Regions from separate parts of the Homo sapiens genome. Here region 1 is linked to region 2. The links come from fine-mapping of genetic effects on gene expression. Tissue or cell type: blood mononuclear cells. Region 2 holds a variant in brackets; the other region holds the start of a gene. All regions are shown on one strand. Distances are from middle to middle.

Evidence for each region. PIP is the estimated chance that this variant, and not a neighbour inherited with it, causes the effect.
Region 1: it holds the start of HEY1, and the variant in region 2 is fine-mapped to the expression of HEY1 in blood mononuclear cells (TOPMed, PIP above 0.99).

What each region holds. Positions count from the first base shown.
Region 1 is chr8:79,765,932-79,770,310 of GRCh38, reverse strand. It overlaps HEY1 (hes related family bHLH transcription factor with YRPW motif 1), which reads left to right and starts at 2,544. Exons shown (of 5, transcript NM_012258.4): 1 at 2,544-2,736; 2 at 3,017-3,092; 3 at 3,219-3,302; 4 at 3,579-3,660. The coding sequence starts at 2,648. It overlaps LINC01607 (long intergenic non-protein coding RNA 1607), which reads right to left and starts at 2,169. Exons shown (of 4, transcript NR_125410.1): 1 at 2,093-2,169. It overlaps LOC101927040 (a long non-coding RNA gene), which reads left to right. Exons shown (of 6, transcript NR_110954.1): 6 at 1-939. RefSeq lists silencers at 1,372-1,541, 1,642-2,001, 2,042-2,521 and an enhancer at 2,972-3,021.
Region 2 is chr8:79,721,597-79,725,975 of GRCh38, reverse strand. LOC124901965 (a long non-coding RNA gene) reads left to right here and starts at 1,764. Exons shown (of 2, transcript XR_007060975.1): 1 at 1,764-1,950. LOC107986893 (a long non-coding RNA gene) reads left to right here. Exons shown (of 3, transcript XR_001745722.1): 2 at 270-387; 3 at 1,255-1,625. RefSeq lists an enhancer at 1,660-2,859. The variant C/T (reference allele first, on the strand shown) is at 2,568.

The DNA.
Region 1 (4,379 bases), 44 kb before region 2:
CCTCTCCACAGCAGCAGAAATGAGCCAAAGCAGGAAAGGCTGACTCATTGTAGGTGCCAGAGGCTGGGAAAATCTATAGAGCCAGAGGGGAAGTAGACACGTTGGTTCTGGGGAAGGGTGGCCTGTCACTTTGGGGAAAGAAATGGAAGGTCAGAGGGACTTCTGGAAGGCAGAGGGGAGCAGGTGGGATGGTTTCCTATGCCTGGACCATCAGTTTCTGGGAGGGAAGAGGCAGGAAGTAGTGATGGATGCCCTGGACTGAAGACTGGGAGGGCCAGGAAGGAGCCTTAAAATTTGCACTTCCAGAGAGAAAGTCGGCTGGTGGGATTGACCTCGGACTGACAACTAACAGGCAGCATGCGGTGGAGTTTCAGGAAGCCAGAGGTCTGGGGTGCCAGCAGCAACAAACCCAGGCTGGCTGATGGAAGGGCCCAGCCTAGACAGGGAAGCAGAGGGGCTGCATGGAAAGGCTCAGGGCTGGAGGTGATGTGAAGTGGAATAAGCTTCAGTGGGAGCCAGGAGGTTGTATTTCCCGTTGGGGGCGGTGGTGGAGGGATGGGGGTGCCCAGAGAGGAACTATGGATTAGGCCCAGGCCGGCCACTCAGAGTGCTTGGCATCCAGGATGTGTTAAGATGGCATTGAGGCCGAGCGCGGTGGCTTAGGCCTGTAATCCCAGTACTTTGGGAGGCCAAGGCAGGCGGATCACCTTTGGTCAGGAGTTTGAGACAAGCCTGGCCAACATGGTGAAACCTCGTTTCTACTAAAAATACCAAAAACAATTAGCTGAGCATGGTGGCGCGCGTCTGTAATCCCAGCTTCTGGGGAGGCCGAGGCAGGAGAATTGCTTCAACCCGGGAGGCGGAGGTTGCAGTGAGCCGAGATCGCGCCACTGCACTCCAGCCTGGGCGACAGAGTGAGACACCATCTCAAAAAAAAAATAGCATTGAGATCAATAAGGAAGTCTAGAAACCAGGAAGCTTTTTGCAAAGAGAAAACGCCTTTTGTTATTCTCACCGATGGATATTAAGCTTTCCCTCACAGACAGGACTACAAGCTTCAGAGTGGATCTGAGATGAATGCGAATTGCTGTGTACCTTTGTAAGGGACAGAAGACCGGATTTTCAAATTTAAAACAACCATTCTGTTTCTGGAATCAGAAATCAGTTTCGAGATTTACAACTGTATTTTTTAAAAAATCTGTCTTCTTAGTGGACTCGGGGGGGACTTCACGTGGCACCCAGTACACGCCACGCCAAGCCACCGAAGCCAGAGGTGTGTGTCTGGGGCCAGAGACGTGCATTCCCTCAGCAAGGCCGGCCTCAGACGCAAACGCCAGCACCGCCACCCTGTCGCCCGCTGAGAGGATCTGGCCGCCGGGGGGAGGGGGCGGGGGGGGGGGCAGCGGGGGAACAACAAAAAAATCCCAGCATAATGATTATTCCCAGGGACCGTTGGGTTTTTTTTTCCCCAAGGCGGCCGAAAAAACAAGTGCTCCCCTTCCCCGGAAATGAGATGCACAGGGGTATTCATTCCATTCCGCGGCTGGGAAGCCCCTGCGGAAACGAGTCTGGCTGCATGTGCGGCCTCGGTCCCAGAAATCAAAAAGAGCGTCCCCTGAGCCCACAGCTTGCTCCTCCATGTGACCGGCCCCTGGGCTGGTGGCCACTGTGGACGCGCCCGGCGCCCCCTCTCCCGGCTCCCTGCGGGTTCCGCGGAGCCGCCGGCGCGCAGCCCGGCCAGGTGCACCCGGCACGGCCCCACTAACAGCGCGCGCCTCCAGCCGCCGGGCACTGGCGGCCACGCGGGCGAGATTTACGGTGGCGCTAGGCGGCGGCTTCCGAGGCCGGCCGGCGCCCAGGCTCCGATTACAGGTTCACACTGGGGGCCCGGCCGGCGGCCGCCCAGCCCCCGCCGGCGCGCCCTCGCGCGGCCCGGCTCCCCGCCTGCCCATTCTTCTCCATTCATGCGGACGCCCAGCGCCGCCGCCGCCGCCGCCAGCGCGGCCGCCGCCGTCGCCGTCGCCGGCCGCCCGGATTGGCTGGCGGCCGCGGCGCCGGCACTTTCCCACGGCCCGCGGCGCGTGCGGCTCACCGGAGGCGCTGCAGGCTCGGCCCTGGCGCGCGGCCAGGCCAATCGGGGCGCGCGGGGCGGGGAGGAGCCGCGGCCGCCGGCGGGCTTGTGTCCCGGCCCGGCCTCCCGCGCCTCCCCGCCGCCCGCGCCTCCTCCTTCCCCTGAGTGCAGGCTGGACAGAGCCCCCGCGGAGCCGACGCACCGCCGCCGGGCAGGGGCGGGCGCGGAGGGCGGGGGCGCGGTCCGCTAGAGCCCTCGGCCTCGCTCCCGCCCCTCCCCGGAGCGGCTGCCAATCAGCGGCGCGAGAAACCGGATTGGCCGGGGGGCGGCTGTTGCCCTGGAGTTGCCGCCCCGCCTCTCCGCCCCCTCGCCCGCCTTCCCCACTCCCCCGCCCTCCCCAGGGCCCTGGGAAGGGGCTCAGCGTGGGAAAGGATGGTTGAGTTTTAACCAGAGGCAAAGCGTGAGCGGGATCAGTGTGTGCGGAACGCAAGCAGCCGAGAGCGGAGAGGCGCCGCTGTAGTTAACTCCTCCCTGCCCGCCGCGCCGACCCTCCCCAGGAACCCCCAGGGAGCCAGCATGAAGCGAGCTCACCCCGAGTACAGCTCCTCGGACAGCGAGCTGGACGAGACCATCGAGGTGGAGAAGGAGAGTGCGGACGAGAATGGGTGAGCTGGCGGCGGCGGAGCGGAGCCGAGCCAGAGCGGGAGGCGAGCGCAGGCCTGCCGCGGTGACAGCGGGCTAGGACCCTTGGCGCGCCGGTGCCCTGCGCTGACCTCCGCGCGTCGCAGGCTGGCGGCAGCCTGCGGCCAGGGAACCCCTAGGTGCCTTCCAGCCCAAGTGGCAAAAAAAGTCTGAGTGCGGGGAGGGTGTGGGGGCGACCTCTCAGATCACCTCTCCTCGTTTAACGGCGATTTCAGTTTTTGTTTGTTCTTTTTCTCTTTTCAGAAACTTGAGTTCGGCTCTAGGTTCCATGTCCCCAACTACATCTTCCCAGATTTTGGCCAGAAAAAGACGGAGAGGAGTGAGTCTCTTTACACTCTCCTTTTATTTTTGTTATTGATTAACGGAAATAACCACCTTTTTTTTTGTCTTTGAAATTTACAGTCGTAATGGTAATGCCTTCCTTTGTTTTGCTTGCCTTCTGCAGATAATTGAGAAGCGCCGACGAGACCGGATCAATAACAGTTTGTCTGAGCTGAGAAGGCTGGTACCCAGTGCTTTTGAGAAGCAGGTAATGGAGCAAGTAGGTAAAGCTCTCAGCATAGCTATCTGCACCTTCTGAATCTTCCCCTCATTAATCTCATCCGCCTTGGAAAATAGCTGTGTTGCTTGTGCCTAGATGAATTCGTACACAGATACCAGCGTATTTTGTGAAGACAACTGATTTTGCTTTAGTCCATGCTTTACGATTTACAAAGCATGTATCTTTGTATATATGTTTGCATATTTTAAATTGTTCCCCAAAGGAACTTGTGCCAAATCAATCTTTTGCCATTCTCATCTTTAGGGATCTGCTAAGCTAGAAAAAGCCGAGATCCTGCAGATGACCGTGGATCACCTGAAAATGCTGCATACGGCAGGAGGGAAAGGTACATCTCCTAGACCTAGTGGGGGCTCTGAATGGTTGGCAAAGAGTGAGCAGCGGCTGAAGGCCAGGATTGGTGCAGTAGCTGCCTGATTTTTCTTTGGGGGTGGGGAGAGAACGGTGTGTGGTGTGTGCAGTTCCCTGTCAGTACATTTTCGAATGCACATAGAATCTTCTCCAGTGAATTCACCACCCCAGCTCTCTGCGGATTGAGCTAGTGCATCTTTTGGAAAAATACCTATTATTTGTGAGGTCTTCAAAAGTTGTGACAGCCCTGATTCAGATCAGGTAGCTTTCACATTTGTCCATTGCTATTTTGAGAAAAAGCATTTAAAAACAATATGTGGTCTTATTTTTGGTATACGGGATTTTAAAAAAAAGGTGCTGCCACATGCCTCTTGAGGAAAGAAATGTATTCTGGTTAAGTAAAGGAAACCTAACGGGAGACCAAGGTCTGTGTGTATGTCTCTCCAGCAGGAAAATGCTTTACTGAGGTCCAAGTGCCTAAAAGCTCCGCGATGATAACTTACATCTGTGTGTCTAATGAATTTCACTGCTCTGTGGTTTCTCTGCCCTTGATGTATTTTTTGTTGTTGTTGAGGGAAAACATTAAAGGAATGAACATAGTTTCATCTGCTGGTAGGGTATAATTCCAATTTCTGCTCTGCAGCTTCTAATTGGGCTTTGAACTTGCATTAGCAAACACATTCTGCTTATGTTGAT
Region 2 (4,379 bases):
CTGGCATAATCAGAAAATTTGGAATCACAATTACAAGACTGTTTGCATGTATTTACTCTAAATTGGCCAAGTTTGGGAAATCATGAATGTAGCTGGTTCTTATCTCAAGAGTTCTCTAAATCAGAACTGCTTTGTTGATGCCTGAATGCTGACCCTGAAAAGTTTCTAAGGCCACCTCAACCCTAGACTTGACTGGCCCATTTAGGAATAAAATAAAGTGTGCAGAAGAGTCCACTTTACCAGTGACAGTCCTTTTCTTGTGATTCTAGGGAAGCCAGATAACTCCGTGGGATTGCCTTTAAAAACATTACAGAAATCTCCATTCTGCAAATCTAAAGATAAAACTTCATTTTCTGGACAAGCTGAGCTCTCATGCAAGAGTGCAAGGTTGGTGATTATTTGCATAACAGCAACACTGTTTTACTGTTTAATGCTCCCTGGACCTAGCATCAATGTCCCCAACCCCTATAGCTGTATTTCTCACACTGAATATATTCCCCTCACTATTCCAAGAACCTATACTGGAAGTATAATGAGAGAAGAATTTGACAGGCCTCAGGAAATTTAATATAAATGCAATAGTCCTTTTCGTCACCCACCTGCATTGATTATTAGTGGTTCTCCCCCTTCTAGTCCCTCTCCTGTCTGAGCAGCCCATGCACTATTACCGGGTCAGTGTTCTGAGACCCATTTCTGCTCCATGAACTTGCAAAAGGCTGGCATTTCAGACACTGAAAGATCTGCTCAGTCCTTTAATCTCCAGTGTCATGTTCCAGCACATCAAAACCTGAACTGTCTCTGTGAAGTCGTCTCACCTTCTTTCTGGGTCTCCCTGTTCCATCCCTATCTGGAGTGTGCTGGATCAGTTGTCCACCCATGTAGACCTACAAGGCCCACTCAAGCCCACTGCTTCCATCAACCCTTTCTCAGCTGCTCCTGCTTTCCTCCCCACGAACCCTGCAATTTAGCAGTTACTTATTGTTTTATATTATTTTCTGAAGTATGGAAGTTTTTTCCCCCAATTCAAAGAGCTGGTTTCATTTGTGTTAGTTTATGTCAGAAAGAGTAGGAGCAGATTTCACCAAAGAGCAATGGCAGGGTGGTTCAGAGGTTCAGAGCTCAGGAAAGATTTGTAGGCTATCTCTCCAGCTGCTTATACAGAGGCATTGCCTAGAGGGACTTTCCATGGCTCAGAGTCAAACCCTCAATCTTGCGGCTCAGAAGCTTAATTTTATTCATTTGTTCTCTCAGCAGGTTCAGTCTCAGAAGGGCAGACTTATAGTAACCGAACTCATTTGTAAACTGAGCAACCAAGCCCATTTTTAAGATCCAGAACCACTGAAGAAACTCAAGCAGTGCTCTTGGCTCTTGGCTCTTAGCTGGTGCACTCTCCCTCTGGGGGCCTACAGGAGGTCCCAATTATCATTAGTGGTTGCTTGGTAAGTTAAAAAATCTGCATGTTTTATGCCCTTGAACTATAATCAGCTGGATGCACCTATCGCCTCATAGGTCTACATTCTGTTGGAACCACAGCAGCCAAGTGCTCAGTGCAGTCGCCCTTTCTCCTTGATGTGCTGGATGGTCATTACCATAGTCTTGTGGCTGGTTGACCAGCTGTGCTACGTCCCCACTCAACACTGCAAATGATTGATATATTCATGGAACTATTCTGACTCTTAAGGTGACTTGGCCTATTTTTCCAGGCACTGATTTTACATTTTGTCTTTCCAAGCTCAATCTTGATTCTTTTATTTTAAGATGAGGGTGGCTTCCAGACGCTTCTGAGTACTGACAACAGTGTGCTCTGCTGCCAAGGCATCCTGCCTCCCTATGGAGAACATGGAGTAGTCATTTAATACCTGCCACCCAAGGGACTGGATGGAAGAAGGGCAGGCTTCAGAGGATTTATACTCTGAAGACAGTTATGTTTGATCTGAAAATGAAAAAGTGGTGAGTATTTCTTAGGTTGTCAGTCAATCCTAACCTATTTGAGTTGAAAAGGGGACCTATAATAATGTTCCCTCCCTGGCTATTTTATTGTGCTGGGAATCTCCTCTTTATGCTCTAAGCCAAATGTTCTAGATCATGGGTCAAGGATGAAAGAGCGCCAGCCACCACCTCTTGGACTATTGCATCCGTGCTCGGCTCTCAGGGGAAGGCTTTGCAGAAATGTCTGCAGTAAAAGAAACACATGACTTTCAGCAGTTGACCTGGAAGTGGTTAGCAGTTTCTTTAAAGGAGTGAGAAAGAGAGACTTGTGGGTTCAAGCCTCAGTCCCTGGGCTATGAAGATGGAACTAATGTAACCTCTTTGGCTAGAGATCATGGCAGCAAGGTCTCTGCAGGAGAGGTAGCACTCTGCTCTCTTTTCTTGTTGTTGTTTCAAACAGGACATGACCTCCAGTAATTTAAAGGCTGTTTTGATTTCTTCTTCCTTGAGACAGCTCATCCTGCCTCTAGCTGGTTGCCTGTGAGGAGGAAGAGAGAGGAAGGAAAATAACGAAAGAGGGAAGGAAGTTCCTCCCCCACATTGAGTGACCCGGCTCCGGCCCCAGGACATTCAGGGAT[C/T]TATTTCAGCATGTTCTCCCCACCCCCACCTCCCTTTCTATTTCCCCTTACTCAGCCTCTCCAGTTCATCACAGCTGGCCACGCAATCTCCCACCTGCAGCCTGGGCCCAGCCTCTTTCCCAGACCAATCTGGGCTTGAGGCAGGAAGCAATTAAGCAGACCTATCAAGTCCCTCCTTACTTCCAGACATCCTCATGGATCTGCTTGCTAACCAAGGATGCAAGTCCCTCTGCTAATGCTTGAGCTGCTGCATTGCACTGGGGATGGCAACAAGCCCTCCTTGTCCCCCTGCCTCCTGTCTGCTGGGACAGAGCACCTGCAGCTGAATTCTCCAGCCAGAGCCTGCCCCGTGCAGTGTGTTCTGGTTTCTGAATGCACCATTCTGCTTGGGGATGACCTCAGAGAATTCTGAATCCAGGAAACTTCTTGGTCCTGCAGGCTTTAGCTCTCCTCTCAACTATCCATGGTATCCCTATTTTTTGACACGGATAATCGACATTTTCTCAGTCTTGTGTAGAGTATTATGCAAATACAGCTTCTCTAGTTCTTTTCCAACCAAAATGCTCCCTGTAAGTTCTTCCTACATTGAAATTCTGCAGCCACTACTGCCAGTGCCCTTCTGACTGGCACTTGTCTCATGGTGTCCTTGTGGATGTCCTTAAACCTGAGCCCTGATTGCCTTCCCAGATGCTACTGGCCTGCTTGCCAGGGCTTCTGCTGTAGTGGACCCTGCTTTCCCATTGCTGGGCTCTGCCCACTGCTGTGATTGCTCCTGTTGATCAGCCCTGATGGTTTGCCTGAGCTATTCCTATAGCGCTCTATTTGCCGAGACTCAGTAACAGTTGCCTGCAGGGGATGGGGGCCAGGAGAAGGATAGGGATTTGGCATCTCTTAAGCCGAAAATCTTTTTCTGTTTTTAAACACAGGGTCTTGCTCTGTTGCCCAAGCTGGACATCAGTGGTGCCATCTCGGGTTTCTGCAACCTCTGCCTCCCTGGATCAAGTGATCCTCCCACCTCAGTCTCTTGAATACCTGGGACCACAGACGTGTGCCACCATGTCTGGCTAATTTTTGTATTTTCTGTATAGATGGGGTTTTGCCATGTTGCCCAGGTTGCTGTCAAACCCCTGAGCTTAAGCATTCCACCTGCCTCGGCCTCTCAAAGTGCTGGGATTACAGGCATGAGTCACTGTGCCCAGCCAACAATTTCTTTCTTTCTTTCTGTTTTTTTGGAGATGGGTCTTGCTATGTTGCCCAGGCTGGACTTGAACTCCTGCACTTAAGCCATCCTCTTGCCTCAGCCTCTGGAGTAGCTAGGACTATGGGTACTTGCCACTGTGCCTGGCTAAGCTGACAACCTTTAAATCCTGTTCAACTCTTATTTAGTGGGGGTAGTGACAGAATGAGGGAGAGTGTTTTCTAATTTTTACTTCAGAACTTTGTCTTCTTTTGTGGAAAAGGGTGCAGATCACATTTTGACCACTCTGTAATGAGCTCTGTGTAGTGATCTGAGTTAAAGTGGGCCATGCTCTCAGATATGGTTCAGTAAGATTTTAGCATTCCTTGTAGCTCCAGACAGCTAAATGGGGCTCTGGGCCTCTCCAAGAATCCCTGGCACCTGGGCATGCCTCTCCCATCACGGAGCTCTCTGCAATATGTTGTGCCAGCGTCTGTCCGTGACTCCAGCTATTTCAGTTTTCCTGTTAAAACACCTTGCCAACCCACTAGTTGTGAGATACAACAAGCACTTTACAAAAGAACGGTAGCTGTTAGAAATGCGGAAACATTCAGACATCTAGTCTGTCCCTTGGG